Homo sapiens: one gene and its partners. The protein of the gene in region 3 interacts with the protein of the main gene of each other region in a pairwise test. Each region holds a gene or a part of one and is shown on either strand. Other genes may lie near its edges.

What was found.
Region 1: the proteins of HTR6 (region 3) and SLC6A1 interact in a two-hybrid assay, tested with the Homo sapiens proteins (one large-scale study listed by BioGRID and IntAct).
Region 2: the proteins of HTR6 (region 3) and CHN1 interact in a two-hybrid assay, tested with the Homo sapiens proteins (one large-scale study listed by BioGRID and IntAct).
Region 4: the proteins of HTR6 (region 3) and IDS interact in a two-hybrid assay, tested with the Homo sapiens proteins (one large-scale study listed by BioGRID and IntAct).
Region 5: the proteins of HTR6 (region 3) and AP4S1 interact in a two-hybrid assay, tested with the Homo sapiens proteins (one large-scale study listed by BioGRID and IntAct).
Region 6: the proteins of HTR6 (region 3) and AKR1A1 interact in a two-hybrid assay, tested with the Homo sapiens proteins (one large-scale study listed by BioGRID and IntAct).
Region 7: the proteins of HTR6 (region 3) and NRXN3 interact in a two-hybrid assay, tested with the Homo sapiens proteins (one large-scale study listed by BioGRID and IntAct).

Annotation. Positions count from the first base shown.
Region 1 is NC_000003.12:11,019,741-11,024,132, forward strand, and holds part of SLC6A1 (sodium- and chloride-dependent GABA transporter 1), read left to right. Parts: intron 1-472; coding exon 473-582; intron 583-2,595; coding exon 2,596-2,728; intron 2,729-4,392. UniProt on the Homo sapiens protein: Mediates transport of gamma-aminobutyric acid (GABA) together with sodium and chloride and is responsible for the reuptake of GABA from the synapse. The translocation of GABA, however, may also occur in the reverse direction leading to the release of GABA.
Region 2 is NC_000002.12:174,809,623-174,814,014, reverse strand, and holds part of CHN1 (N-chimaerin), read left to right. Parts: intron 1-1,532; coding exon 1,533-1,706; intron 1,707-2,426; coding exon 2,427-2,504; intron 2,505-4,392. UniProt on the Homo sapiens protein: GTPase-activating protein for p21-rac and a phorbol ester receptor. Involved in the assembly of neuronal locomotor circuits as a direct effector of EPHA4 in axon guidance.
Region 3 is NC_000001.11:19,671,179-19,675,570, reverse strand, and holds part of HTR6 (5-hydroxytryptamine receptor 6), read right to left. Parts: intron 1-4,392. UniProt on the Homo sapiens protein: G-protein coupled receptor for 5-hydroxytryptamine (serotonin), a biogenic hormone that functions as a neurotransmitter, a hormone and a mitogen. Also has a high affinity for tricyclic psychotropic drugs.
Region 4 is NC_000023.11:149,491,112-149,495,503, forward strand, and holds part of IDS (iduronate 2-sulfatase isoform a preproprotein), read right to left. Parts: intron 557-4,392; exon of another isoform or gene 427-556; intron 1-426. UniProt on the Homo sapiens protein: Lysosomal enzyme involved in the degradation pathway of dermatan sulfate and heparan sulfate.
Region 5 is NC_000014.9:31,063,061-31,067,452, forward strand, and holds part of AP4S1 (AP-4 complex subunit sigma-1), read left to right. Parts: intron 1-3,065; 5' UTR 3,066-3,136; coding exon 3,137-3,274; intron 3,275-4,392. UniProt on the Homo sapiens protein: Component of the adaptor protein complex 4 (AP-4). Adaptor protein complexes are vesicle coat components involved both in vesicle formation and cargo selection. They control the vesicular transport of proteins in different trafficking pathways.
Region 6 is NC_000001.11:45,567,176-45,570,791, reverse strand, and holds the end of AKR1A1 (aldo-keto reductase family 1 member A1), read right to left. Parts: intron 2,811-3,616; coding exon 2,615-2,810; intron 2,308-2,614; coding exon 2,108-2,307; intron 1,866-2,107; coding exon 1,793-1,865; intron 1,650-1,792; coding exon 1,563-1,649; intron 902-1,562; coding exon 836-901; 3' UTR 743-835; downstream 1-742. UniProt on the Homo sapiens protein: Catalyzes the NADPH-dependent reduction of a wide variety of carbonyl-containing compounds to their corresponding alcohols.
Region 7 is NC_000014.9:78,172,924-78,177,315, forward strand, and holds part of NRXN3 (neurexin 3), read left to right. Parts: intron 1-4,392. UniProt on the Homo sapiens protein: Neuronal cell surface protein that may be involved in cell recognition and cell adhesion. May mediate intracellular signaling. Functions as part of a trans-synaptic complex by binding to cerebellins and postsynaptic GRID1.

The DNA of each region.
Region 1 (4,392 bases), on a different chromosome or scaffold from region 3:
TCAAAATTAAAAAATGAAAGAAAACAAAAAGTGAAACCCACCTCATAGGGTTCTTGTGAGGATTAAGGAGCAGATATGTGTAAGGAACTTAGAACTGCGCCTGGCAGAGAACAAGCCCTGTAAGTGTTTGCTGGTGTCGTTGCAGTGAGAGTTAGATGGGCAAGGTCTCTTGCCCAAGGTCACATGGTGGGGAAGTAGCCCCGGCTGCAGCTTGGAAGGCTGTTCTCACAGTGAACAGGTTGAGGTTCAAATCTCAGCTCTGGCACTTAGTAGCTGTGCATTCTCAAGCAAGTCACTGTCCCTCTCTGATCTGTCAAATGGGGATCATAATGCTACTTGCCTCCCAGAGCTGCTGCGAAGGGGAGGTGTGAGGAGGCTTGGGGACCATGAGGGTGGGCAGGGTGCACTGGGACCACTCATGCCAGCCCCTGGGAGCCCAGCAGGATGCGTCCTCATGACTGTGTCCTTGCAGACACTGCCGTGGAAACAGTGCGACAACCCCTGGAACACAGACCGCTGCTTCTCCAACTACAGCATGGTCAACACTACCAACATGACCAGCGCTGTGGTGGAGTTCTGGGAGTGAGTATGGGGCCATCAGGGGATGGCAGGGACGGGGCATGTCAGCCAGAGCCCGGCAGGAGACAGAGGCCCCTCGGAGGGGTAACAGAAGAGGTGGATAAAGGGGCTACAGTCATGTGTCACATCATGACATTTTGGTCATCAGTGGACCACATATGCAACGATGGTCCCATAAGATTATAATACCATATTTTTACTTTACCTTTTCTACGTCTAGACATGTCTAGTACCGAAATGCATTGTGTTACAGTTGCGTACAATATTCAGTACAGTCATGTGCTGTACAGGTTTGTAGTCTAGGAGCAATAGGCCACACCGTATGGCATAGGAGTGTAGCAGGCTAGACCATCTAGGTTTGTGCAAGTACACGCTATGATATGCACACAACAACAAAATTGCTTAAGAACGCATTTCTCAGAACATATCCCTGTTGTTAAGTGACACATGACTATACTTGCAGAGTTGTGGCAGGGCTAAGGCAGCCACAAGGGATGCTGAAGACCTTTTCTCCCCAAAAAGAGTTGGACCACAGATAGAGCCATGAGACACACAAACTCTGACCTTTGATAGCAAAACCCAGCTACTCACAAAGCCAAGGTCCAGCAGGAAGAATACATTCCCCAACATCTCTGCCTCTAATCTCCTGCCAGCTCCTCCCAATGGTCAAACCCAGCTAGAAGCCAGAGGGCAGGGGACCAGATAATGTGGCCATAGTCGTCAGCATCCTGGGGCCTGGCACAGAGTGGTCAAGGGGAAGAGTGGATCAGAGAGGCAAACGGAGGGGAATAACCAGCATAGCCAATTAGAATCACCTGGAGAGGTTGACCACATCCTGATTCATCCTGAAAACCAGCCTGATCTACTTACGAACCTAGAGTCACTCGGAATAAACATGCACACACACTCTGGCCATAGTGAAGGCCGTGCTGATTGTATCTTCAGGGGAGTACCTTGTAGAGATGTGTGTCGGGGGTCACTGATGTGACACAATGAGGTGCTGGGGCCCAAATCTCTCTGGCATGAAGGAAGCATCCATGCTGGACAGCTCAGAAGGATCCGGGAGCAGTCTAGAAGGTCTCAGAGCACCTTGGATAAGCTCCCAGGAGGAGCTGTTCTCAGGCACTGTCAGAATCAGAGTTGCCTGATCTCTTCATGGCCAATGTCCATGGTTACACTGTTTCTTTACAAATAAAAATCAAATTCTGCTCTGGTGGGTTCTGCTTTCTGGCATCTCCCGCATGCTGCTCTCAGGCACGTTCGGACTTTTCATTCAACCATTTATTCAGTAAACACTTCTTGATCTCCTACTATGTGCCAACTGATGACAGGCACGGACATGCAGACAGGCAATGGCACCACCAGGCGGCCAATGCGGAGAGGAGGGAAGCCCAGGCAGCTGGGCTGCGGGGACCTCAGGGAGTCCCCTGGACCACCCCAGGTCGGGAGTGGCATCTAGAAGAGAAAACTGCAGGGCAGGCAGGTGCTGGAGAGAAACAGTGTGAAGGCTGGGAGGCAGATGAGGTCAGGCCAGGCACCGGCAAACAGCTGCAGTGAGTGCTGAGAGGAGAGAGAGATGCAAGGGCCTTGAAAGGCTGGCCAGGGAGTTTGGGCTTCATTCTGAGAACAAGCGGGTGCTATTCATCGCAGTAAGCAGAGGAGTGACATGATCAGACTTGCAATTTAGAAGGCTCTCTGGGGCTGGAGAGGGGATAGAGCAAAACTGAAGGCAGGGTCCCACTAGGAGGCCACTGGGCCATCCAGATGAGCAGTAGTGGTGGCTGACTAAGGCCCTGGCAGGTCCTGTTCTCTTTGATCTCTTGACCAAACAGCACTTTCTACTGATTAGTATAATGGGCCTCACAGTCCCCAGCTACCTCTTGAATCACGGTGATGACGGTGTCAGCACAGTTCTAGGGCGGGGATATCATCTGTGGCCATGCCCTGGGCACCCCTGGGTCACTCCGGCTCCCACCAGCTCTGTGTAACTTTCTCCTCCCTCCACTGTTTGACCAGGCGCAACATGCATCAGATGACGGACGGGCTGGATAAGCCAGGTCAGATCCGCTGGCCACTGGCCATCACGCTGGCCATCGCCTGGATCCTTGTGTATTTCTGTATCTGGAAGGGTGTTGGCTGGACTGGAAAGGTAAGGGATATATGTGCACAGTGGGGACAGGAGGGCACTGGATAGAGGAACAGGTCTACAAAGGAAGCTCTGCCCACAACTCCCAAGAGTCCCATCCAACCTTGAATTAAGCAGGTCCCTTCAACACTCGGTGTGTCCGTTTCTTTTACTGTGAAATGGGAATAATAACATTACCTTACCTTCTGGGGCAGTTGTGAGGATAAAAGGAAATAGTGCAAGTCAAGTACGCAGCACAGTGCGAAGCTCACAGTGAGTCCCATGGGATTCCACTGGGCCTAACAGAGTCATCTCAAAACAGAGGGCAAATGTTGCTCCTGGACTGTTGAACAAACTTTTCCAGAGCATCTGCTCTGCACCAAACCTTGTTCTAGGTGCAGAAACTCCAGAGATGACAGCTTCACATCCTGACCCTTGAGGAACAACAGAGATGAATAGGTTAATGGTTAGATTCAGGCTCTGTATTAAGCAGTCCATGAGTTAAGATCCCAACCTCACCATTTACTAGCTGTGAGCTCAGGCAAGTCACTTTGCCTCCCTGGAACTCAGTTTCCTTCTCTGTAAAACGGGGCTAATAATTATACTTATCTGTTGGTTTATTATGATAATCAGATGAGATGGTGCTTTTGTCAAGCGCTCAGCACCCAGCAAGGAGAGTTGTTATTACTCTTGTTTTTATTCTCAGCAAGTGCAGAGCAAATGCCAAGCTGGGATGTCTAGCCCAGGGACACCCGGGAGGTGGAAAACTGGCCTTACTCCACCTTTTCTCCCTTTCAAGCCCTACCCCAGGAGCCTGGGGGCAGAAGATGGCAGTCTCTCACTGGCCCTGACCTGAAGGGAACCCGGAGGACAAGTGTGTTGTCTCAGATCTTATGGCAAGTCAAGGGCAGAGAAGGGATTTGTACTGAATAAGATGGGAGGCAGGAAGGTCAGAACTACCCAAGAAGTGAATGCAAGGTTCTAGAAGCAGTAGTAGAAATGAACCAAGCAGAACCTTAACAAATTCCACACTTGGGCAGGGCAGAGCTGATGAAAAGCTACCCTAGTTTCATCTAGTGGGAACTTCTGGACCCACTGGGTTCTCAAATCCAAGGCTGGTGTAAAAGTATCTCTGATCCATTCCTAGGACTAGGGACGCCGGAGGAGGGCACAAGTATCTCCCAGTCTAAATTTCAGGAGCAGAAAAGTATAGGGCTTATGGGCTTTGGAAGGGTTTGAGTCTCAGTCCCTGAGCTTCTAGCTGTGTGCACTTGAGCAAGCCATTTCATCTCTCTGAGCCTCAGTCCCCTCATCTGTTCAATGGTCACAATAACAGTACCTTACAGGGTTGTCCCAAAGACTGAGGGAGATGAGTAGAATGCTTAGCATATGCCTTACACATAGTAAGCACTCAATACATAGTATCAATTATAATCATTTTGGAGTGGTAATTAGAGTTCGTGCTACATTAGGAGACTGGCCACTTCTTGGGGACAGAGAGTAGGGCCCCCTCACTGCATATATTGAGGATGTCAACCAATCCATCCACAAGCATTTATTGAATACCTACTATGTGCCTGGCTTCATGCTGAACACGGAAGGCACAGGGAAGTACGAGACCAAGGTGACATATAATAAGCCTGCGGCATGTCCTGATGTGACTGACCTTTCTGAGCAGTAGGTGTGAC
Region 2 (4,392 bases), on a different chromosome or scaffold from region 3:
CTTGTCTCTGTTAACTGTTACCACTATATATAACTAGATCACAGCTAATAACTTTTACCAAAAGTCATGATAATGATCACCAGCATTTGTCTAGCATTTTACAACATTCAAAGCACCTGAATGCATTGGCTCATTAATTCTCAAAACAATTTTGTGAGGTGAATATTAGGATCGTCTTTCTGCCAGAAACAGCAAGCAAAACTGAATGGCGTTGTATGATTTTCAAATTGGCTTCACTAAGACCTGGCTATAAATCATATATGCACCACTTGGACTAGATTTACAAGAGGTCAACATAAAGTTTTTATGAACTTAAAAACAAATGGGTTATTTTTTTTAAAAAGATGACATTTATTTTAGTTGAATTATTTAGGTATGGTTTACTCTGCAGTCTAATTTAACAAAATATTTGTATTCCTCTCTACCCCATCTAAAATTTCTTTGTACTTTTCTTGTTGAAAATAAAGTGTCTCACAATATTAACCAGAAAATGTTTCATTTCTGGCATCTTAGAAGTTATAACCAAGTAAAATTACAAAGCAAATGAGTAACTTCAGTAGAGGCAGTATGTGTCTAGGTGTTAAAATTGGGGACTGACTCTAGGGGCTTCCAGATAACTGAACATGTGGCGGTTCCTAGAGGGTGATACACCCAGGGAGGGCTGGAACCTCCACACCCCTTTCCCCATACCTCATCCTATACGTCTCTTCAGCTATATCCTTTGTAATTAAACAGTAAACATTTTTAAAATGTGGACTCTAGAATCATCCATAGGCTTGAGTTCTGTTCCACTGTGTACTAAATGCATGGCCTTGGGTAAATTACTTATTACTTCTGTGTTTGGTTTTCTCAGATATAATATGAGGGAAAAAAGTACCCGTTTCATAGAGCTTTGTGAGTTTAAGTGAAATAATAAATGTAAAGCACTTAGAATAGTGCCTGGCACTAGTAAGCCCTCAATAAATGTTAGCCGGTAATAGTATAGCAATAAATAATAGTTACAGCTATTTCCAGCTACTAGAGGAATTATATATTAGTTATCATATATATAGAAAGGATTACAGATAGATATAAACATGAGCAGCACCATTTTAAGAGGGCCCTGGATATTCCTACTTTTGGAGGTCCAATTCCGCTTTATATCAAATATACTTAAAATGCAATTATACCCCACATTAAATAAACATTTTATGTAACTTTAAAGAAATGGGTTTTTTTTTTGGCTATTTGACATATTTTGTGGACATTGAATTAAAAACATTAATTTTGATTTTTTTGTTGTATTCTCCTGAGATCATACAGCAATTAAACGATGAAGCGTGAGCTAGAATTCTGGTCTCCTGGCTTATAATCAAATTGTTCCAAGAGAAAAGATGAAAATTATTGTTTTTCCACCAAGAAAGAACTGCTGGAGTCTAGTCCACTTTAAAACCTAATTCAAGCTGGAGTGCCTTTTGCTAAAATTAACACTCCAGAATGCTCAAAACTCTGAAAATAATATTGAATGTTTCCTTTCTTTATTCTTTTCTTAGATTGTGGTTTGAATGTTCATAAGCAGTGTTCCAAGATGGTCCCAAATGACTGTAAGCCAGACTTGAAGCATGTCAAAAAGGTGTACAGCTGTGACCTTACGACGCTCGTGAAAGCACATACCACTAAGCGGCCAATGGTGGTAGACATGTGCATCAGGGAGATTGAGTCTAGAGGTGAGCCATTTGCAGTGCGGGTTGCAGTGGTCTCCGTTCACTACCAGTACCAATCCTGATGCCTTTTGGGTACCTCATTGCACAATACGGTTGTCTTCTGTAATTTGGAGGGGAATGGTTTCATATGTCAAATGATCTCAAAGACTGAAATGAATTAATTTAACAATTAAATAGCTTGATTTCAAGGTACATTTAACTAAGTGTAGCCAATGTGCTTGTATAAAAATATATTTATAGATGATGCTTCCAGTCTGCAAAAGTTGACAGGTAAAGACAAATTCATTTTTCAGTTTTTAAATTTTTCTTTGGTTCAAAAAGCAAAAGTATAAATGCTCTACTAAAACTATCTATAAAGCCAAAAACAGAGCTGCATCCTAATTATTCTTTCCCACTTGAGAAAAACAGGCCTATATTTTATCTTAGTCTTCTGTTATGTAAAAGAATTTATGATGTAATTGGGGTGATGAATTATTTCCCTTAAGACTTAACATATTTCACTTAATTAGACCAAATGATGAGCCAGATGATATTCAGGTGACAATAGGTAAGAGTTAAAGAACTGTGTGTGAAATCGTTTTATTCTAGGAGAAGAGTGTGAAAAGATTTCTAAACATGTATATTTTATTTCTTCTGACACATTACCTCCCAGCTTAAAGTGTGAGGAGTTAAAATCTGAAGAAAAGGCATAATTCAAAGAAACTAACTAGTTTTATTTTTCAGGTCTTAATTCTGAAGGACTATACCGAGTATCAGGATTTAGTGACCTAATTGAAGATGTCAAGATGGCTTTCGACAGAGGTATGTTTTTCACAATGTTCCATAACTTAGGACAATAATACTCTTTTCTAAAAAGGCACAATTTCTTGTGAGGTATTTTTTGCATTATTTTTCTAAATCATTGATGATTATTATACCAAATTAAAAAACTTAGCTTATAATTTCTTCTTTTTTCTGAGTTGTAAGTATTAAACAGTCAAATTTCAGAATATGAAAGAAGTATAAAATTAAACTATGTTACCAATATTTGAGTATCCAAGGCTGGTCCATGTTCACCAAAATACATACAGAGCAATTACATTCACCAAAAATGATAGAGAAAAGAGTAGGATCTATACCATTACAGATTTCAGGCTTCTCAGGCTTGAGTTAACCCACCTTACCCTGCCTGTCATCCATGCCCCGCTGGCATCCTCATCACCATCTTCGATTAGCTGAGTGAGACCCAAGCCCGGACTCAAGTTTTGGGGCCAGAAAGCTGAAAGAAGCTTTAGGGGCCTTCTGTGGGGGACCCATCAGCCACTGTAGGAGAAGGGGCCCAGTCAAAGAAAAGCTCAGTGGAGCTTAATTTTCTTAGCTAACATTTAAATTAAGATTTGCTTCCATGGCTCTCCAATTTGTCTTTGCTTCAAGGACTAGAACAAGGTGGTTCCAAAGAAGACCTGTAGCCTTGAATACAGGAAGTAAAGGAGTAAGAGTTAGTGATCTTTTAAAGAACCACTTTCCTTTGCAAGTACGTATTCTAGTTCTATCACACAAACCTCTCCCATTCACAGACCTCTTGTAGGCAACAGAGGCAGAAAGCAAAAGTAATTAAATATTCATTACCAACCTGAGGGAAACTAGGCCAGCCCATGTATGTGATAAGAGCAAAGAAAGGGAGGTGAATTAATGGTGTATTCACTCCAAATAAGCATCAGGAAGAGCAGTCCTGAATCCCTGCCAGATTGAATGGGAAGAAGCATCTCTTTACTCTGGAAGCTCTGCAACTGAGCATGTCCATTCCCAGCCTCTGGCTATGAGTCTCAAAAATAAATTCACACTGACAAAGAAACTGAATGTTCCTATGGACCCCAGAGAGCAAAGAAATGACACAGTTTCCTGTATAGAAAATATGAGACAACCATTTTGTGACCTGAAAACACCAGTAACAGATTTTAAAATTCATGAAGAGCTCACCTTGGCTCCCTGTAGCCACACTGCTGGGGGCCAGTCTTTGGCCTCCCAAGGATGTGTACCAGCACTCATCTGCAAGATCTATAGTAATGATGCAAAGGATTTTAACATGGATTACAGGAAACCAGTGACTCGGATCATTAAAATCAGTTCTATATATAAATGCTGCCCAATTCCATGCATGTTCAAAGGAATAATCCTATACCTTTGAATAAACAGAGCAAAATAATTTGGAGTAATTAAGGATGATCACTTCTGAGAGGCATAAACCTCAAGTAATGAGATCCAAGAAAGAAGACAATATCCATAGGATGCTGGAATGAACTCATTTAAGAGCCAAGGTGAAAAGGCAAGTTTGGGGAAATCTTCCCCAGCTTAGGAAATAGTGACTGAATGGAAAGCTGACTATTCTGAGGTCAGCAGTTGCCATTATACCTCTGCTACATTTTGTCCTTTGGTGGAATCACAGATATTTATGTGACAGGTACAGTGAGAGATCCATGGTCAAAACAAATAAAATCTCATCAGCTTTACCCCAGAAGAATCCTAGTCTGCTGGAGGCAAGAGCAGAAAGTAAAGAAACAATCAGGAAACAGAGATGTTATAGACGTCTTGCTGATATGGTATAGCCCTACTTAGAATGTAGTATGTGGATATCAGATTCCAGGATTTGTTTACATTATTTTAAAACAGAAAATAAGTAAATAGATAATACAGATGGAAGAATATATTT
Region 3 (4,392 bases):
TGAAGATGAACTGAGATTCCCTTTCTAGTCTCCCTGGGAACAACTCCAGGTTTTTCTTTCTCCTCTGCTTTCCAGAGAGTTGACTCAAGAACACAGGGAAGAGGAAAGAGAGAAGGAAACTGAGGCTCAGAAAGGGTAGAGGACACTCTACCCTTCCCAAGGTCACACTGTTCCAGTACAAGGCCTCCAACCAAAACCTGAGTGGCCCTGAACAAATCAGCATTATCATCCCCATTTCTCGAGCACTTACTACACATCAGCATTTGATAGTCATTAGGTCATTCAGTCTTTATGAGAGGTAGGCATTGTCATCCCCATTTTGCAGATGAGACAACTGAGGCTCGGAGAGGCAAAATGACTTGCCAGAAGTCACACAGCAGTTAAGAGTTGAGTTAGGGATTCCATCATTTCTGGCCTCAGGAACACCACTCTGCCCACTTCACCAAGCTGCTTCCACCTTTGGAGACGGCATCCATGGGCCCAGTCAGGTGGGGTTACAGAAACCCCACCACTGTCAGCAAGAGGCCCTCATGGAGCAGAAGCCAATGGCTGTCACTAGTCCACACCCCGGCATCTGGCTGATGCTGGCATCACCCTTCTGGATTCTCTCTCCCCCATAAGCACCTCGCAGCCCCTTGGGGCCATGTCCTGTCGTTTGCATCTCCCTTCTGTATCAGTGTCAGAGGGCAGCTTCCTGAAGGACAATCCAGGGCCCTTCCAGCCAACAATCACACATACAGCTTCCAGCCAACACCTACATTCATGTCTGCACGCTTCACATATCCAAGAATGTGTCCCACAGCACTACTTGTGATAGGAAAAAATTGGAAACAGCCTTAATGTCCATCAAAAGAAGAGTGGTTTAGGCTGGGCACAGTGGCTCACGCCTATAATCTCAGCCCTTTGGGAGGCCAAGGTGGGCAGATCACTTGAGGTCAGTAGTTCGAGACCAGCCTGGCCAACATGGCAAAACCCTGTCTCTGCTAAAAATAAAAAAATTAGCCAGGTGTGGTGGTGCATGCCTGTAGTCCCACTACTCAGGAGGCTGAGGCAGGAGAATCACTTGAACCCAGGAGGTGGAGGCTGCAGTGAGCCGAGATCACACCACCACACTCCAGCCTGGGTGACAGAGTGAGAGTTTGTCTCAAAAAAAAAAAAAAAAAAGAGAAGAGTGGCTTAAATAAACCACGGTGAATTCCCACTACAGAATACTACACAGATGTTTTAAAAGAATGAATCAATCAAATGAAAAGATCTCCATGATTATTAAATTATAATAGCAGGTTGCAAAGTAATAGATACAGCATGATCCTATTTGTTTAAAAAACAATATCCAACACAAAGCACCAAGTTTCTTTAAGTACCTGTATAAATACATAAGCACATAGAAAATGACCCGGAAGGGCTAGGTGCAGTGGCTCACACCTGTAATCCCAGCACTTTGGGAGGCCGAGGCAGGTGGATTGCTTGAGTCCAGGAGTTCAAGACCAGCCTGGGCAGCATGGTGAAACCCCATCTCTACAAAAAATACAAAAATTAGCCAGGCATGGTGATGTGCGTCTGTAGCCCCAGCTACTCCGGAGGTTGACGTGGGAGGATCACCTGAGTCAGAAGAGGTCAAGGCTGCAGTGAGCCGTGGTTGTACCACTGCACTCCAGCCTGGGTGACAGAGTGACACTCTGTCCTAACAGAAAAAAAAAAAAAAAAAAAGACCTAGAAGGACATATCCTAAATTGATGCATGTCCCTGGGAGTGAAAGGTGATTAGCTGGAATTTGGAGGTCTTTTCCTTCATCCCTATTGTTGAATTTTTAAAGTGTATTTATGTATTCCTTTGTGCAATTAATTTTATTTATTTATTTATTTATTTTTTGAGACGAAGTCTCGCTCTTGTTGCCCAGGCTGGAGTGCAATGGCGCGATCTCGGCTCACCACAACCTCTGCCTCCCGGGTTCAAGCGATTCTCCTGCCTCAGCCTCCCAAGTAGCTGGGACTACAGGTGTGCACCACCATGCCCATCTAATTTTGTACCTTAGTAGAGATGGGGTTTCTCCATGTTAGTCTCAAACTCCCGATCTCAGGTGATCCACCCACCTCGGCCTCCCAAAGTGCTGGGATTACAGGCGTGAGCCACCACGCCCAGCCCACAATTAAATTTTGTTACCATCATCTGATCATAGTGTGAGAGTTACAAGACAGACTCTGGAGCCAGACTGCCTGGTTTCAAATCCTGGCTCTGTTACAAACTAGTGGAGTGACCTTAAGCAAGTTACTTCATCTATGCTTCCACTTTCTGTTCTGTAAAATGGCACTAAAATAGCATCTACCTCATAGGATTATAATAAGGATAAAATAAAATAATACACTGAAAGTTAGAACAGTGCCAGCACATAGGAAGTCCCATAGAAGTGTTAGCTATTGTTGTCATTATTATTAGTCTCTGGCTCAGCTGTTTGATAATGATGGTGATGGTGCTGGTGACAGCAGTGATGTTTTTCCCTAGAAAGGGTCAAGGTGGTGAGCTCCCCAGAAACATATTTTACCAACAACAGGAAAAGAGAGGCACGAACAACTATTGTTGTTGTTTTAAAGATGGGGTCTTGCTCTGTTGCCTGGGCTCAAGCAATCCTCTCACCTCAGCCTCTTCGAATAGCTGTAACTAAAGGTATGTGCCACCAGGCCTGGCTAATTTTTTATATATATTTTTAGAGACAGGAGCTCGCTATGTTGCCCAGGCTGGTCTCGAACTCCTAGCTTCAAAGAATCCTCCTGCCTTGGCCTCCCAAAGTGTTGGGATTACAGTTGTGAGTCACTGCCTAGCTGAAATTTGTTGAGCACTTACTATGTGCCTGGTATTTTATGTATATTATCTAATTGACTCTTCAAACAGACTTGTGTGATAGATGTCATGACCCCTGGAGCATAAGGAGGTAAAATGCCTTGCCCAAGATCGTCCAGCTATGAGGCAAAAGAGGCAGGGCTTGAACCCTAACCAGCCAGACCCCCAAGCTCCTGCTCCAGCCCTGGCTGCACCAGGCTGCCTGGCTCTGAGCAGCAGCCAAGCCTGCCATGCTCGGCAGTGTCACTCTGCCAGCCTCTCCCTGGCTCGGCCCCCTCCTCCCCCTCACAGATATTTCTGTGATCACAGCCTCCTCCTCTGAGGAGGAGGAAAGACAGAGATGGAAGGGAAGATGGATCACTAAGACAGAATGACGCTTAGTTGGGTGAGAGAGGGTGAAAAAAGGAGGGGGAGGAGGAAAAGCGGGAGAAATTGATGGGACAGGAGAAGGGGGAGGGGAAGACGGGGCACACAGAAGGAAGACATGGGAACTGAAGGAGAGAAGGATGGATGGGAGTGGGGAGGAAGGTGAGGTGTAGAGATGGGATGAGGTTATGGACCACAGAGACCCAGAAATCCTGCCAGGAAGAGGAGGAGGCTGGGCCTCTCCTGCTGGGCTCTCCCTCAAGCCAGTGGCCCATGCTGCATCTCTGAAACTGCCCCTAACACCCTGGACCCTCCACAATCTCCCAAGGATGGCTCAGTGCCACCCACATCCAGGCCCCCACCTTCCACCCTGCTCCCAACACACACACTCCCCTGCCCTGGTAGCTCCTCACTCTGCCCCACGGCTCTTCCTCCATCCCCAGCCCACACTCCCAGCCACAGTGCTAAGCAGGACCCCTTCCTCCCAGCCCTGAGGTGGTGGGAAGACCTAGTGGAAATCACTAAGCCAACCAGTGGCCTTTTAAAAGCCCATTTCCATAAATAGACATATGGAGAGGGGATGAAATGCTCAAGGCTGACCAGCTCCCATGTTCTGACCCCAGAGGAACTGGGGCCTCGAGACCTATGCCCAGCTCCTTTCCCTCTGCAGGGAAGCTAGAGAGTGGAATGGGGCAGGAAGCCAAGGCTAAGTGGGGCTGGGCACAGGAAAAGGGAAGGGGTCCAAGACACCCACATCTGATTCATTCTCATCACTTCCTTTAGGTCCAAACATTGAGGGGGCCTCCACCTCCAGGCCAGCTCTGGTGGGAAGAAAGAGGCGGTGACCCAGGAGGGCCAATGCAATTTCTCAGATGCATTTTCCCAAAGTGCAGGCCGTTCACCAGGCAATCAGGAAAACGGCCTGCAGGAGGCTTACTTAAGGAGCCGAGTGGATTTGAAAGCAGGAACAGAGGCAGAATTTGCACACGTCACGTTCAAACCAAGAGAATGGGCTTTCCAGAAAGCGGGGGGATTAGAACAGACACATTTCTGGCTTGAGAGGCCCCTGAGTCACTCTGCCTTAGAAGTAAGGCGCTGGCCTAACCAACCCATGAAGACCCCTCCAGCCTTTCACTTTAGGGCTTGGTGTGAGTGCTTTGCTTTCATCTTCAAACATACACAGTGAAT
Region 4 (4,392 bases), on a different chromosome or scaffold from region 3:
TTTAACACATAACAGCAACCCTGACTGAGCCTTTCCCTCTGATCACTTGCTAACCCAACAGCAGATTACAACTGCATATCTTCATGAACTATGGCCGTTACGTGGAGCTCATTTCTAACAAACTGTCAGCAGGCAGGAGAAGAGCAAAGGAGATACCAGAGAGCAGCACGTCCTTCACAGTCCCTGAACCCAAGAGGCACTTTGGGAACAGCCAGATCATGCCCTGAAGTAAATGAGCCACCGGCCCCTCCTGGGCTGACTCTCATTCCCAACCTGGTTCACAAATGCTAAGGACAAAAATTAATCTTCCACCCCAAAGAGGGGTGAGAAGAGAGCCGTGTCTTCGCAGACCAGCCCCTGACTTATCAGCTGGACCCACCAGCTTCTTCTCATCACTGCCAGGGTGAGGACAATCATGAGACTCACCCGTTCTCACTTGCAGTCAAGAGAAAAGATATACATCTAGCCTTCCAGCAGGATTATGCTGAGCCCTGGCCTACTTATACTTTCTGGTAGATGAAGTCTTCAGTCTGAAACCTGTGGAACTTTGGTCCTCCTGGGGATGAAAGACACCTGTCAGGATGGCTATGTCCTATACAAAGGTATTCCCTCCTTCCTATGCTAGCCCCTGGACGTAAGGCAATAAGCAGACAAGGTCCTCACCCTTGATGAGCCACCCCATCCAGTGAGGACACAATCATGGAGACAAGAAAATGCTTAATTATCAGTGAGGCCTGCTGGGTCTGTCCTGCAGACCCTGGCCTATGGATGAAATGAGTACTCAGACACAGGTATGCAGCATAAGAGCAGCTAGGTTACTGCCTGGCTCTAGTGGCCAGAGAGCAGCCCCGAGAAGCTGGAGCTGCTGGCTTTTATTCAGTGCAGGCATAATGCCAAAAACCTAGAGCCAACCTGCAGGTAATTAACATTTATTGTTCCCCTTTCAGGGAACCTCACAAGCACAGACGATCAAAGGTCAGTTCCTGGTCAACATAAGTAAACAAGCCTGTTTAAGATAAATTCTCCCACACTCCCTTGTACCTACTCCTTGCCCTCTGCCTCAGGGTTATAGAACAGCTATTCTCCCCTGGGGCTCTGCAGAACCTTCTGACCTTTCAGAAGGTTTGCATCCTTTCCCTATAGTTTTTCCCACCACTCTGACCGATCCCCCACAGAGGCCCAGGGGTGACACAGGGGAATAAGCCCTCAAATCTGCCTGGGAGATTCAGGGAAGGCTTCACAGAGGAGTTAGAATTTGACAAGAAGCACCTGCAGTCAGACAAATGGGGCTCAGATGCTCCAAGCAGGGGCTGCAGGGCACGGAACAGTGTGGAGTTGTGACAGAGCAGGTTGCATTTGGGGCCAATGAAAGGCCCATGTGACTGGAGAATCAAATGGGAGGGCAGAGGGGTGACTAGAAAGTTAGGTCCGGGCCAGATAATATGGACCTGGTGGGTCTATCCAGGGAGTGGAGACTCCAAGTTCTAGGCCAATGGAGTCACTGAGGTCTTTCAAGGCGAGAAATTGACATGATCTGGGCTTCAAGTTATTAAGAGTCCTGTTGCAACAGGACACAGACACAGATTCCAGAGGCTTTAGACAAAATGGTACTAGGCCACTGCTGGGTACATAAGAGGTGCTCACTACACTTGCTGAATGAACAAAACAAAGCAAGGCCCACTGAGGTGGTCCAGAACAATGTGCTGAAGGATCCAGAGGACTGTGTGGATGTGAGAGGAATTCAGGGGCATCAAGCAGACATGGGGGCAGGGAGCAGAGGAGGAGGAGGTGTTGAGGAACCCAAGGGTGACTCCAGGTTTCACATTCAGCTGGTGGCATAATTCGCTGGCATTTGGGGGCAGGGGGCGCAAGAGGAGGAGGAGGAAGGAGAAAAGGCAGGGCAGGGGTGGTGGCCTGACCACGCGGAAGCCTATGGAGCTGAGGTCTCCAGGGTCATCTGCCTAGGAATGGCTCTCACAGGCAGGTCAACACACATATCTGAAAATCAGGAGAGACCTGGGCTGAAGGGGTAGTTCTGGAGTCATCTGCCAAGGCTCAACTGAGCCCAGCAGGGGAAGAAGAGGTGGAAAGGATATAGTGGGGGGCCTGGGAAGTGGCACCTAAGTGGCAGACACAGAAAGGATTGGGAGGCCAACAGTCCCAGAAGGGGTGGAGCTGGCCAACAGTGAGGAAGTGACACAGAGCTCAAGGAAGGTCAGGACCTACACAGATAGATTTTACTGGCCACCAAGGTCAGTGCTGAGGTGAGAGTTTAGTGGATTGGGGAGGTGGAAGCCTGTGTAGAGGATGGTGAAGAACAAATGGACAATGAGGCCACAGACACAGCCAGAACAGCCCAGTGTGCACTCGCTCTGCCTTGGAGGTCAGGTGAAGGAGTGGAAAGCAGAAACAGGCAGGGGCAAGGGGGCTGGCACTTTTGCAGCTGGGAGGGATGAGAGTGGATGGAGAGGCTGCAGGGTAGGTAGGTGAGAAGGAAGATCTTGCTCATTCTGCTTGCAGACGTGGGAAGCAGGGACAGTGGTGGGGAGTTGAGGGAAGAGGCCTCGAGCCCAGAACATGCATACACAAAATTCCAGGTCTCAGTGACAGAGATTATTAATAGAGCCCATTCAGCAAGTACACACTAGGTGGCATCTGATCCTGTGAACGGCACATTAAGGACTCCAAGACTCAGAAAGGTTAACTTGCCCAGAGTCACACAGCTGATAAGGGGCACAGCCAGGATGCGTACCCACATCCACCCTGTCCGATCCCCTACCTCTGGCTGTCCACCAGCTTCCATTTCTACAAGAGGAAAGGTGCTATCCACTGAGAAATGGGGCACAGGGGTGGCAAAGGCCTGGAGGGGAGCAGTGAAAGGGAGTAGAGAAGAGGTCATGCAAACGGAGCAGCTGCAGAGGACAAGTGAGGTGAGCTGAGCAGAGAGCTTGCCTGGGCTGCTGGGGCTGGAGGCGGGGCATCTGAGGGCCTCCCTGCTTCGTGGGGGCATGGATTTTCTCCAGCAGCTTTCAGGACTTGGACTACAGAGCAGAGGGTGTGGCTGGAGTGTCTGACGATAAAGGTACTGCAGGAGGGGCAAGGATAAATGGACAAGTATGGTGAGCTGGGCGGCTGGGAAGTACAGTAAGTCACCTGCCACCAGGCCTTAGCTATTTAGGGAAGCAACAAAGCCAACAGGACCTGGACACAAGGGGGAGATAGAAATCCATACTCTAGCAATCCCCGTGAGGTAGAGCAAGGGAAGTGCTAGGAGAAGAGGTTGTGGTCAGTATGGTGACTCGGAAGGAGCAGGCAACAAACTCCTGAGTGTGGCCCCTGAGGTCACTGGCTCATGTAGAGCTGAGTTAGAGGGCTGGAGCTGAAGAGATCCCAGAGCTGAGTCTCAAGGGTGCAGTGAGATGGGCTTGGATGCGGACATCCAAAGCTACAAGAGGACAGTGAGCAGGCCAGAGTTCAAGGGGAACACAGGGCTGAGACCAGCACATGCAGGCATCAGGGAGGCCCTCTGAGTCATGCTGTCCACTGTGTGTAAGGAGGGGACTAAGAGAACTTGAAGGAGATAGCTCCGTGCAGCCGACACGGTCCTAGATACTTCTACATGCTCTCTTTGGTTCTTGCTGAAAATCTCTAAAGTAGGTGTTATCATGGAAAAACTTTACCTACCTTGTTTCAGTTTTATAGAGAAGAAAACTCAGGGAGGCTCAGGGAGGTAACATGACTTGACAGAGGTTAGGCAGCTGGTATGAGGTAGAACATGAATTCGAACCCACACTGCTGGGAACCAACAGATCCAACCATGGGGCTTTGGAGTTACAGTCCCTGGGGATGAATTGGCTCCACCCAGCACTAATTTTGTGCTGTCAGACAAGTCAGCACACCTCCCATGCCTTGAGTTTCCTCACCTAGACAACAGAGAGCAGGTACCTCACTAAGTCCCCATGAGGACTAAAGGCGATACCACACATGAATCAGCGCCCTTCCTGGCACACAGTCCATTTTGAAGGGTCATTTTAAGTGACCATCACTAATAAAGCATCCAGGTGCAGCCTCAGAGCCAGTTCAAGCCACTTCACCATCAGGAGCCCAGAAACACAAAATTAGAAAACAAACAGATGGATGCATTGCTTTCCAAACTCTCAGTGAAACAGGAATCAAATACATTTGAGGAATGTACACCTCTCACCAACCAAACTCTTGTTGTGCAAACTCAGGGGCCAAGTAAGTTTGGATAGCAAGGGATATCTGTATGCAGTGGTTTTGTTCTGTGTTTGCTTTAAACAATACTCTACAGCAGAGGCTCTCAAACTTCTGATGAATCAGAATCACCTGGTGTGCTTTTTTTTTTTTTTTTTAAGAAATGTCGGTTGTCAG
Region 5 (4,392 bases), on a different chromosome or scaffold from region 3:
TAAGGCAGGAGGACCCCTTGAGGCCAGGAGTTCAAGACCAGCCTGAGCAAAATAGTGAGACCCCCATCTCTACAAAAATAAAAATAAAGGCCGAGCGCAGTGACTCATGCCTGTAATCCCAGCACTTTGAGAGGCTGAGGCGGGCAGATCACTTGAGGTCAGGAGTTCGAGACCAGCCTGGACAACATGGTGAAACCCATCTCTGCTAAAAATACAAAAATCAGCAAGGCATGGTGGCAGGCACCTGTAATCTTAGCTACTCAGGAGGTCGAGGCTGGAGAATCGCTTGAACCCAGGAGGCAGAGGTTGCAGTGAACTGAGATCGACTGCACCATTGCACTCCAGCCTGGGTGACAGAGTGAGACTCTGTCTCAAAAATAAAAATAAATAAAAGTAAAAATTAGCTGGGCATAGTGACATGTATCTGTAGTCCCAGCTACTCCCAGCTACTTGAGAAACTGAGGCTAGAGGATCACTTGAGCCTAGGAGTTCAAGGCTATAGTGAGCCATGATTGTACCACTGTACTCCAGCCTGGGCCAGTATCCTCAGGACTGTTAAAGTCATGAAAAACGAGGAAGACTGAGAAACTGTCCCAGACCAGAACAGACTAAAGCAACATGACAATTAAATGCACTATAGTATCCTGGATGGGATTCAGGAACAAAAAGAGGACATTAGTGGAAGAATCGATGAACTCTAAATAAAGTCTGGAGTTAATAATAATGTACTAATATTGGTTTCTTAGTTTTGGCAAATGTACCATGGTAATGTGAGATGCTAACAATGGCCATCTTTGCAACTTTACTATAAATCTAAAATTTCAAATGTTAAAGTTCATTTAAGAACTATTACTCATCTTAGTTTTTTGCACTGGTTCTCACAGATATCACAAAACGTGAATACAATATTGTCAGCTGAGCCAGACCAGCCAGCTCTGGTGGTCATGATGAAAGAAGGACTGGCCATTGATGAATATTATGCTCACTTGCATTGATTTTTCCAAAACCTATGTTGAGTGTAAGAGAAACAAATATGAGATTCAATACAACTGAGTTAGACATAACAGCACAAGCATGAACCCCTGAATGAGGAGGATGAGTTAGGGGTGTCATGGATCCATGCATGTGCTTGGCCTTTGAACCGCAGCCCACCTCTGACACAAAGTCATGCAGTGACTTTGGGTATCTTCTTTTCTTTTTCTTTTTTTTTAAGAGTCTTGCTCTGTCACCCAGGCTGGAGTGCAGTGGCACAATCTCAGCTCACTATCACCTCCACCTCCCGGGCTCAAGAGATTCTCCTCCCTTAGCTGGAGTACAGTGGCACCATTTCAGCTCACTGCAACCTCCGCCTCCCGGATTCAAGCAATTCTCCTGCCTCAGCCTTCTGAGTAGCTGGGATTACAGGTGTGCACCACCATGCCTAGTTAATTTTTGTATTTTTACTAGAGCCAAGGATTCACCATATTGGCCAGGCTGGTCTTGAACTCCTGACCTCAAATGATCCGTCTGTGTTGGCCTCCCAAAATGCTGGGATTACAGGCATGAGCCACCGCGCCTGACCAAGTGTCTTTATTTCTAAACTTTAACCTGCTTGACCTTAAAGTAAGGATAACAGACTTGATAAGGTGGCTCACGCCCGTAATCCCAACACTTTGGGAGGCCAAAGCAGGAGGATCACTTGAGCCTAAGTGTTCAAGAACGGCTGGCAATATAGTGAAACCTCATCTCTACAAAAAGTTAAAAAATTAGCTGGACGTGATGGTGCATGCCTATAATCCTAGCTATTCAGGAGGCTGAGGTGGGGAGATCACTTGAGTCCAGAGGCAGAAGCTGCAGTAAGCTGAGATTGCACCACTGCACTCCAGCCTGGGTGACAGAGCGAGGCCCTATCTCAAAAATAAAGTAAGGATAACAGAAGTACCTACCTCAAACAATTGTGAGAATTGCTCAGCACAGCACCTTACAGAGCCTGTTATAGGGCCTGGAGGAATTTGATAAATTGATATCACTACTATTATTTCCACCACTAAGGAAAGAAAAGCTTTACTATAGATCTTGTCTCCATTGCCCATAAAATAAAGCCCAAATTCCTTAGCATGACTTCTAAAGCCAATTATATCATATGTGAGTAGCTTAATTTCCTGCAACTATTCTTCCCATGCCCTGAACTGCAGCCCCAGTGAACTTTCCAGAGCTTTCATACCTGTTTTCTCTGCCTCAGTCTTCCCCTGTAGCTCATTCTTCACGACCTCACATCAGTGCCCCTTCTCCGGGAAGCAGTTCTTCACTCTCCTGTGATGTTCCTTGTCCCTCCCTTCTGTACACCTATGGAAGCGGACCTGTCCCAGTTATAACTCATCACCTTGTACTGCCGTTGTTTACCTACCTAGCACCTTTGCTAGATGTAAAAATCAGAAGATCAGAAGTCCTTACTATTTCATCTTCACATTCTTCTGGTGCTTGACACATCGTTGTTACCCAGCAAAATGAATGAGTAAATTGAATGAATAGAAACAGAAGTACTGCAGTTGCTCAGAATTATTTTGGAGAATAACTGATGAAAATTTATCATTGGTTTTTATTTTTTTATTTTATTTTATTTATTTATGTATTTTTTTGAGACAGGGTTTTGCTCTGTTGCCCAGGCTGGAGTGCAGTGGCGCAATCTCGGCTCACTGCAAGCTCCGCCTCCGGGGTTCACACCATTCCCCTGCCTCAGCCTTTCAAGTAGTTGGAACTACAGGCCCCCGCCACCACGCCCAGCTAATTTTTTGTATTTTTAGTAGAGACAGGGTTTCACCATGTTATCCAGGATGGTCTCGATCTCCTGACCTTGTGATCCACCTGCCTCGGCCTCCCAAAGTGCTGGAATTACAGGCATGAGCCACCACACCCGGCCTGGTTTTTATTTATTAAAACCTCAATTAGTTCATAGGAATAAAGACTGATATTATCAGATGATATTTACTACTACTTTATTTACTGTTTATCTATAAAAACATTTAATATAATTATTTGAGAAATTTGATCTTGCCTTTCTGGTTTTGTTTGTTTTTGTCTTCAAGGTTCCAGTTACAGCCATCCCTTGTCATAACTTTTGAACTGTATTTGGAAAAATACTGGCCAGGAAAGAAAAATGATAAAATTTTTCCTCATGGTGAATAAACAAGGGCAGACTCGACTTTCTAAGTACTATGAACATGTGGATATTAATAAGCGTACACTTCTGGAAACAGAAGTCATAAAGAGCTGTCTCTCTCGATCCAATGAACAAGTAAGTCTCTGGTTCTCTCTTTTATCTCTGCATTCAACTCAGCCTTGGCAGATTTGTTATTAGTGAGTCTCAGGGGCCATCATTTTCTTTGAGCTATATTCCTTCAACAGCTACTAAAGAAAATAAGTGATGTGAAATGAAAAACTGAAAGAAGCATAGCTCTCTTTACATCCCTTTAAGAAAACAAAAACAAGGAAAACCTGGAAGAATCTTGGCTTCTTATTTAAGTCAGCATATTTGTCTCAATGCACCTTGGAAACGACAGTAAAATTTCCTTCTGCTAATAGACACACCTCTTCTTTTTTCATTCCTATGAATTCAGCCCTTGAAACTCTCATGAGTGCCTGTATCAGGTAGCTTTCTATAAGCCAAAAAATGAAGATCAGATGATTGGTGTAGAGGTGAATACTGAAGACCCATTTTGTGCCAGAGGATAATAATATTATTCTCAAATCGGGTGGTTTTATTCTGCTTATTATTTTTGTAAATATACCACCAATATAATACTGAAACCAGTGATTTAAAAACAAAACAAATTTGATTATCTAGGTGGGGAAAACGGAAATTAAGAATTCATGTGAAACAACAAATTTATCCATCTTCCAAAATGGAGGTTAAGGCTGGGTGCAATGGCGCACGCCTGTAATCCCAGCACTTTGGGAGGCTGAAGCGGGTGGATCACTAGAGGTCAGAAGTTCAAGACCAGCCTGGCCAGCATGGTGAAAAATTAGCTGGGCGTAATTGTGCACAACTGTAGTCCCAGCTACTGGGGAGGCCGAGGCAGGATTGTTTGAACATGGGAGGTGAAGGTTGCAGTGAGCCAAGATTGCTCCATTGCTCTCCAGCCTGAGCGACAAGAGCAAAACTCTGTCTCAAAAAAAAAAAAAAGGAGGTTAAATAGGAATTTTTAAAACTGCGTCCTTTTTTTTTTAATTTAATAGTTTTTTTTTATTATACTTTTAAGTTCTAGGGTACATGTGGACAACATGCAGGTTTGTTACATATGTATACATGTGCCATGTTGGTGTGCTGTACCCGTTAACTCGTCATTTACATTAGGTATATCTCCTAATGCTATCCCTTCCCCCTCCCCCCACCCTACCACAGGCCCCGGTTTG
Region 6 (3,616 bases), about 26 Mb from region 3:
GTGTCTTGGTTATAGCTATATCCCCAGGGCTTAGCATCATGCCTAACCCATAAGTACCCAATAAATACTTCTTGAACAAAGAGCAATGGTTTGGGAAAGTAAAGAGTTTCGTGTGACTGGAGGTTAGAGAGATTTGCCATAAACCTTCCTAAAACCTGTTTATCAGTGGTCTCTGGTGCCCACCAATAAAAAGTGCATAAGATAGGGCCTTAGGGGCCGAGTGACAAGGTCTGGGCAGGACTGTTGCCTCCTGCAGGTCACCTATGCACACTGACTATAGTGTCTGATGGAGAAAGCCCCTGTCCCCACCTTTTGTGATTTTGCAAGCTAGGATTCCCTAACTTCTTAATGTAAGTCGCTTGGACTCTTCAAATTACTAAACCTAGGCACTGGTCAGGACAGGGGGATGGAAACTTAAGGCCCAGGTCCAGCACTGCCTTGAAACCAACGGACAATCATTGCCCTGATCGCTCACTCCTGAGGTGGCCAATTTGAGGCATTCTTGAGAAGACTCCAGGGAAGCATGCAGTGCTTAAGATGTGCCAGTAGATGGCGCTACTTCCCAACGTGCCTAATGCAAGGATACAGAATTACTCAGCCTCCTCACAGGTTCCTCCAGAACCAGGATATGAATATTTGGGCTTCAAGGGCAGGTCACATCCAGCAGCCCGAGGTCTGTCATCCCTGAGGGAAACAGCCTCCATCTCAGGCCTGACCAGGCAAATAAGACAAGCAAGCAATATGGATGCTCCAATGGCTTTATTAACTCCCTCTTTCCGTTGTGGCAGGACCTCATTAGCTGCAGAGCTGGAAGGGAGGCCAAGAAGCTGTGGTCTCAGTACGGGTCATTAAAGGGGTACAGAGGATGCCCTGCATCCCTTGGGACTCTCTTCCCATCCACCTGGAAAGAGAGACAGATAGATTACTCCATCAGCAGGAGTTGCCATTCCAAAGACTCCAGGCATCTTCCCCAAATCTTCCTAAACAAACTCACCTGTGTACAGCACTATGCCAGATGGCATTGGCTGGGATCCCCATCCTCAGAGAACACCACAGTATCAACACCATTCTAGCACCAAACCCATAGCCTGATATGTAGCTACCCCTGCCCCTAAGAGTTTGCAGTCTGAACTGAGATCAAGAGGCCAGGAACCATTTATTTCCCTAAGTACAGCCGACTTCCCTCCCAACCCCAATCCCTCGAGTGAGGTCAACAACGCCTTCTGGGCTCTCCTCATATCATTTACTGAGAATCTACTACATGTCAGGAACTGGGCTCATTTTACACATAGGAAGCTGAGGCTTGGAGAAGTTTAATAACTTGCTCTAGGTTACAAGATATCAAGAAGCAGGACTGGGACTCACAGGTTATATGCCTTATCCCTGAGCCATACTACTTCCCTGAGCTCAATAAAGAGAAATGAGGGCACTATGTCCAGCATAGCAATCCCACCCACAACATTGTGTCCTTCTCACAACCAGCAAGCCTTAGGTCACACCTGGGCCAGAATCCCACCCCAAATCTCACATTCCCCAAGTCTAGGAGGCTGATACATCCTCACCGTAAGCATAGGCACAATATATCTCCAATTTTTGTTCAGGGCATTTAGCTGCTTCATCTCTTCTGGGCTAAAGGTGAAGTCAAACACCTGAGGATGGAGAGTGGGGTTCAAGAAAGCCAGCTTTGTGAGCAGAAGCTGGGGTTCCACAACACTGCCTTTTTAGCCAGGTAGAGTCAGGGCCAAGAAAATGTCCCAAAGAGCTAAAGAAGATAGAACCCATTACCAAGTACCTTGATGTTCTGAAGGATTCGAGAAGGAGTGATACTTTTGGGGATGCAGATCACTTTCCGCTGGACCTGCCACCTAAGTTGGGGGATTAGACAGATGAGGAAAAGGGGTCAGTATTCATAAGCACTATTTTGTTCCCCATGCAGCTTCCCTAAGCTCCTGGAGCACCTGAGCCCTGCTGAAATGGGAAATATGCCTACAGTGGCCTCCCTCCAGATCACAAGGCAAGATCCTCAGCCTCACCCAGACACTGAAATAAGAAATCCCTTAACCCTTGCCTCCCAACCCAGGGCCCTCTCCCTAAGACTGCCCCATACCTGAGCAAGATCTGAGCTGGAGATCGGCCATACTTTTCAGCCAATGCCAGGACTACTGGTTCCTCCAGCAGGACAGGCTCATCAGGATCACGCCATGCACGATCAGAGGAGCCCAAAGGGCTATAAGCAGTTACCTCCAGGCCACGTGCTTGGCAGTGGGCAATTAGCTCATTTTGAGCCAAGTATGGGTGGCATTCCACCTGAGCCAAAGAATAACCCATCACCATGAAGTGGTGACACCCAGCTTGCTTGGCCCATCCCAGACATGCATGTCTGGACCACCCCCTATTGCTGACTCCTCCACTCCCCTTCAGCCTGCTTTTCTCACCATTTCCCATCGGCAATTTCATTCTCTCCCACTGCTTCAATGCCCACCTTTATGCAGAGGACTTCTGCACCAACACTCTGACAACTTGCTAGCTATCTCCCTTAAGCAGATCCATCGTCTGCTCCCTCATGCTCTTGAGCAGACAACCCCTAAACCACTCATCTGCTTGCTGTCCTTACCTGCAAGACAGCTGGACGCACGGAGGCCACACTGAGTATGTCATCAATCTGCCGACTGTTGAAGTTGGACAGGCCCAGCGCCTGCACCAGCCCCTTAGCCACCAGTGCCTCCAGAGCCTTCCAAGTCTCCTTGTAGTGGGTGGAGTCGTAGCATATAGTCCCATCAGCATTCTTGGGGAAGGGGTTGTCTCCCCGCCTGAGTGAGAGACAGCCCCACCAAGTGTGGACACAAATGCCAGGCTTCTACCCTACCTGCCCATCCAGCCACTCTATGTCCCAAACTCCAATCCCAGAGAGGACAAAGGGCCAAGAATTTTTAAAAAGCCATGCTTTTTCTTTTTTTTTTTTTTTGAGATGGAGTCTCGCTTTACCGCCCAGGCTGGAGTGCAGTGGCACTATCTCAGCTCACTGCAAGCTCCACCTCCTGGGTTCACGCCATTCTCCTGCCTCAGCCTCCCCAGTAGCTGGGACTACAGGCGCTCACCACCACGCGCAGCTAATTTTTTGTATTTTTAGTAGAGACGGGGTTTCACCGTGTTAGCCAGGATGATCTCGATCTCCTGACCTCGTGATCCGCCCGCCTTAGCCTCCCAAAGTGCTGGGATTACAGGCGTGAGCCACCGCGCCTGGCCAAAAAAAGCCATGCTTTTTCATCCTTCCAGATCGTAACCCAGGTGTTAAGTTTACATGGAATGCCTATGCCCCCTCCTCTTCCTAGACGTAGATATCTCCTCTCCCCTAGGAAGTCTTCCTTAACTCATCCTCAGGGAGTTATCCACCCTTCTTCCAGCACAGGGCACGGCACTAATGGTGAGCTCTTCTCACATCTTCTGCTGAGACTTACTTATTACTGTAACCCCAGGTGCTCAACAGAAAAGTCAGCACCTTTTCTAAATGAATAAAGGGAGCAGGAGGGTTACAGGTGCATACCCTGGGGTACACACCATGTGAGACTGCCTTCCTTTTTCCAGAGTTAAACTCCTGTAGCTACAGCTAAGCTGC
Region 7 (4,392 bases), on a different chromosome or scaffold from region 3:
GTTTTTGTTGATTTCATTTTAGTGCTGCGTTTCTCCTGACTATGTTGATGATTTGCTGCTTATATAAGGGAAAGGATGTATTGAGGTGGACTGATGCTTGGGGTTTTGAGATCGGCTACTGAGATTGGGTGGCGGTTGGTGTGTTTGTCGATGTGCATGGTAGGAAGGTCTTTTCTTTTGGGTGGTAGGGGATGAGAGAATGGTGGGAGAACGGTAGATGAGATGCTACAGCAAACGGGGATGTGGGGGGAGACGGAGGTGAGGTTGGAAGTCACCGGTTTGCAGAATTTCTATTCTGCACCCCCCTTTCTCTCGCTCCTGGAAAAAAAATCCATTATCTATAAAAACACATTATTCTTCAATTGGCCTTTTAGAGAAAAAAAAGAGAGAGGGAAGGGAGGGGTTAATTTGGTGAGGGGGCTTGGTCGTAATTAGCCCACTGCTGCAAAACTGAGATACAGAAATCCATCGGCACCAGCTTTGGGGGCATGGAGAGGCAGCGGAGAGATGGGGGACGGGTTGTCAGTCTTGGATGAACAGTGGAGCGGTCGGGTTGGCGTCTGGGCATTGTGTGTGCTTGTGTCTCTGTGTGTGTGTGAAATTTTTTCATCCCACCACCAATCTCCCCCTCCATCCTCCCCCAATTCTGCCATGATCTTGCCTTCTATTTCCACACACTGCTCCCCCCACCCTAGGCGCACCCCCCCTTCCTCCAGCCCTTTCCATCTTCATGAAAAAAATTCTGATTTTGATGGCTCTGCGGCTCTTTTTTCCCTTTTTCCTTGCTTTTTTTTTTTTTTTGCAACACAACAGTCGTGCGATGGCCTTTCCTACATGCCACACGGATGCAGCCTTCTGATAGGAGGGCAAAGTCGGCACATCCACACACACACTGGCATACGCTCTTGCACACACAGTCTCTGTCACATACACAGGCGCCAAGGGCTTCATTTTGCTTGGTTTCATTCCCCTTAACCTCTTTCCCCACTCTACCTCCACCATGGCTCCTTCCCCCCATCTTTGCATGGGGACTGCGGTCACGTTAGAGCCTCTTTTCCTCTCCGCAACCGCGGTCTTCTTTCTTCTCGCCATTATTCTTTCCCTAAAGCTGTCGTGTGTCGCAGTTCATGGGATTAGCATGTTGGAGAGTCTTTGTGGGAGGGGACCTCACAAGCAGGGGATTGGAATGGGGGTAGATAACATTAATAATTTTTTTTGACCAAATAAGCACCCAGTGATAATGATCCAATTTAACCATCCATGAAATATATGTTTGCGGTACATTGGAGGAAGGTTATGTGGGGGAGGCAGAGTCTGACGGGGTTACCTCCGGGGAGATTTGATGCCTGGACAGTAGAGCCACAGCCCCCTCCCCCATACACATGTGTACACTCTCTCACACACACCAACACGCACAGCTCTGATCAGTGGGCTGTGTCGAACCAGAGGGCACTGCAGAATATCCCAGAGAGTTGTGATGGTTAGTTGGGAGGATGGAACAATGTCTTTGTCCGACCCAGTTCTCCTCTCTACAGATGATTCTGGGTCTTGAAATTCTTGGTGGCCTTTGTGTTGGTTTACGGGTGGGGACTGGAAGGGTGTTTGTGTTTTGTCAAGCACCAGCGTGCCTCCAATTGGACAACATAGGATTGTCAACACTGTGCGTGTGGTTCAAGCAGGAGGCTGCCTGCCTCTTTGTGTGGTGTGGCTGTGTTTGTTGGATATGTGCGTATCCAGCCTCATACGGTGGCTCTGGACAGGTGTGGTAGTGACGGGGAAGGAAGGCAAGAAGCAGGGATGGTCAGTGGGGAAGAGTCCTCAAGGTAGTTGAGAGGAGGGTAGAGGGGAAGAAACTGCTCCTGCCTCCAGCAGGAAGCCTCAAATGAGATCCCCACGTCCACCAAGCGAACCCGTGGGTGGGTGGCTCATGGATGACTGGTGGGCGGATACAGATTGAAGGGGGAGAAGGGGATGAGGTGGGTGAAATTGAGGGTTTTCCCTGCTGCCTTGACAGAGCCTGGGGCTGAGCTCGGGAGGGTGGTCTTGCTCCCCTGGCATCAGCCACCTCTTGGGCGGCTCGGCCTTGTTGGAGGCTGCAGCCTGAAGGAGCTGAAATCACCCTCGGCCGTGAGAGCAGCCCAGCCCCTGTTTTCTCCTGGGCTCTGGCTGCCTTAACTACCGGACGCCATTTTCCCATCTTCAGCTGAAGGTGTGTCTCTCTTTATTAGTAATTATAAGTGAAATTGGAAAACATTTTGCCTAAAAGAAAAAAATCACAAAATCCTCAGAGCAAAATGCTGATGGTCTTACCTTTCTAGCATCCCTCTCCCTTCTTGGGGCTGACCCTGAGGAGTTAGGGAGACAGGGTTACGTCATTGCCAGAGAAAGGGGATAAATGGGGAGTAGGATGCCTTGGGGGTAAATTATTGTGCCCAATGCAGAGAAGAGATTGTTCTTGGTATCCCCCGGCCGTGTTCTCCTTACATGACCCCTCAGGTGTGGATAGGAGACTTGCAAAAGAAGAAGCATTCCTTCTAAAACCTCACTGCCTAGAAATGTGCTGGCCCGTGGTCGGCTGTGGTCTGGGACCTGCTGTGGTCCGGTTCCTGCTGTGGTCCGGTTCCTGCTGTGGTCCGGGACCTGCTGGGGGAAGAACTGTTGCGCTGCAGCTCTGAGCCTTGAGGGCCAGCTCTGTTGCTCTGAGGATGAAGCAAGTGCGGTGCTGTGGCTGGGCCAGCCACAGGTGGCCATGCTGGGCTCGGGGCAGGTTGGCCATGCTGAGCTCGGGGCAGGGACTATGGATGGGGCCCACTCCCAGCCCTTTCCTGCAGGTTGTTCCTCAAATTATACTCCTCAGAGAGACCTTTCCTGACCAGCTTTCTAAAATAGTCCCCTTACCCCAACCTCCTGGCTGCTTTCCAGCCCATGACACTGTCTTTAATTTTAATCGGTGAATCATTATTTAATATTATATTATACGATGATATATTGAAACATTTAAGATGGATCTCGTCTCTTTACCCCTCTAGAATGCAAGCTCTGAGAGGTCAAGGACTTTGTGTTCATTGTGGTGTTCCTAGTGCGTAGGACATTTCCTGACACGTAGTAGGTGCTCAACAAATGTTTGTCGATTGGAGGAAAGAACCACATGGGTTTAGTGTTGGAGTTTTCTTCTCTAGCACTTGTGGCCTGTCTTCTGGGAAGGGTGGACTTTGCCTCTGGTTGTCTTAGCCCTGCCTGAATGTCTAGATCTGCTGGAGGAATTGCAACATGCTCAACTTCAGTAGTTTAGTAGAAAGGGCTTCTCTATCCCTGGCTCAGATGACTCTGCCTCCTTTGAGATCCCTCTAATATTAGTAATCACCATTCTCATCATCATCATAGTAGTGGTAGTAATAGTCGTGATATAGCTATCATTTCTGCAGTAGTTACTATTTACAAAGTTCTCTTCCAAGTTTTTTTTTTTTTTTTTTTAACACTCGGTATCTCATTTAATTCTCCAAACAACTCAATGCAGTATACTATTATTACCTGAGGAGACTGAGACTTAAAGTTACCTAATAAAATGACAGATCGAGGATTTGAATTCAGATCTGTCTCATGCCAGAGCCCAAGCATGGGACCCTTATGTTATAGTGTTAGAGGAAAAAGGGAGATGAATCATCTGTCATCTTATTCAGTGCCCTCAAGTACAAATGACAAGATGGAGGCCCAGAGAGACTACATGGCTTTTCCAAAGTTATGCACCACGTTTGATGCAGAGACAAAACTAGAATCAAGGTTTCCTGGCTGCCAGGGTAGGGCTCTTTCTACTCCATCATGCTGCCTGGTGGGCTGTGGGCCCTTTTCCAAGGGTATTGCAGCTGCTGCTGTGGGGGCTGCCTGGGGTGCCTTCTTAGTTCTCTTTCTTCAGAGGGGAGTGAGGTCTTGGTGGGGCAGGTGGGTGGTAGGTGTGTCTCTAAGGAAGGCACACTTGCAGAGCTAGAGGTCAGGGTTTCATGGCTCGAAGAAGACTGGTGGGCTATATTCCAGCTGAGTGGTGGTTAAGGTTGTCTTCTGACCTTCCTGGGGGAGGAGAAACTGGAATGGAGGAGGACCCCCATTCCAGTGGGGTGCTCAAGGTTCTCAATCCCATATAGCCCTGCCCGTCAAGGGTACTTTCAGGTCCAGCAGAGGCTCCATTCAGAGAGCCAAGCAGCTGGTATCTGGATGCTGACGACTCTGGGAGCCTGTCACTTCTCCTAGACTGGCCTAGCCTTCTTTCTCACGAAGGGAAGCATGAATCCAGACATTGGCCCCAGTGTGCTTCATTTGTGTTTCCAGAGGCTGGTTGGGGGGCATGATGTCATACAATATGGGTGAAGGCCTTCTACCAGTGTCTCTGTTCCACTC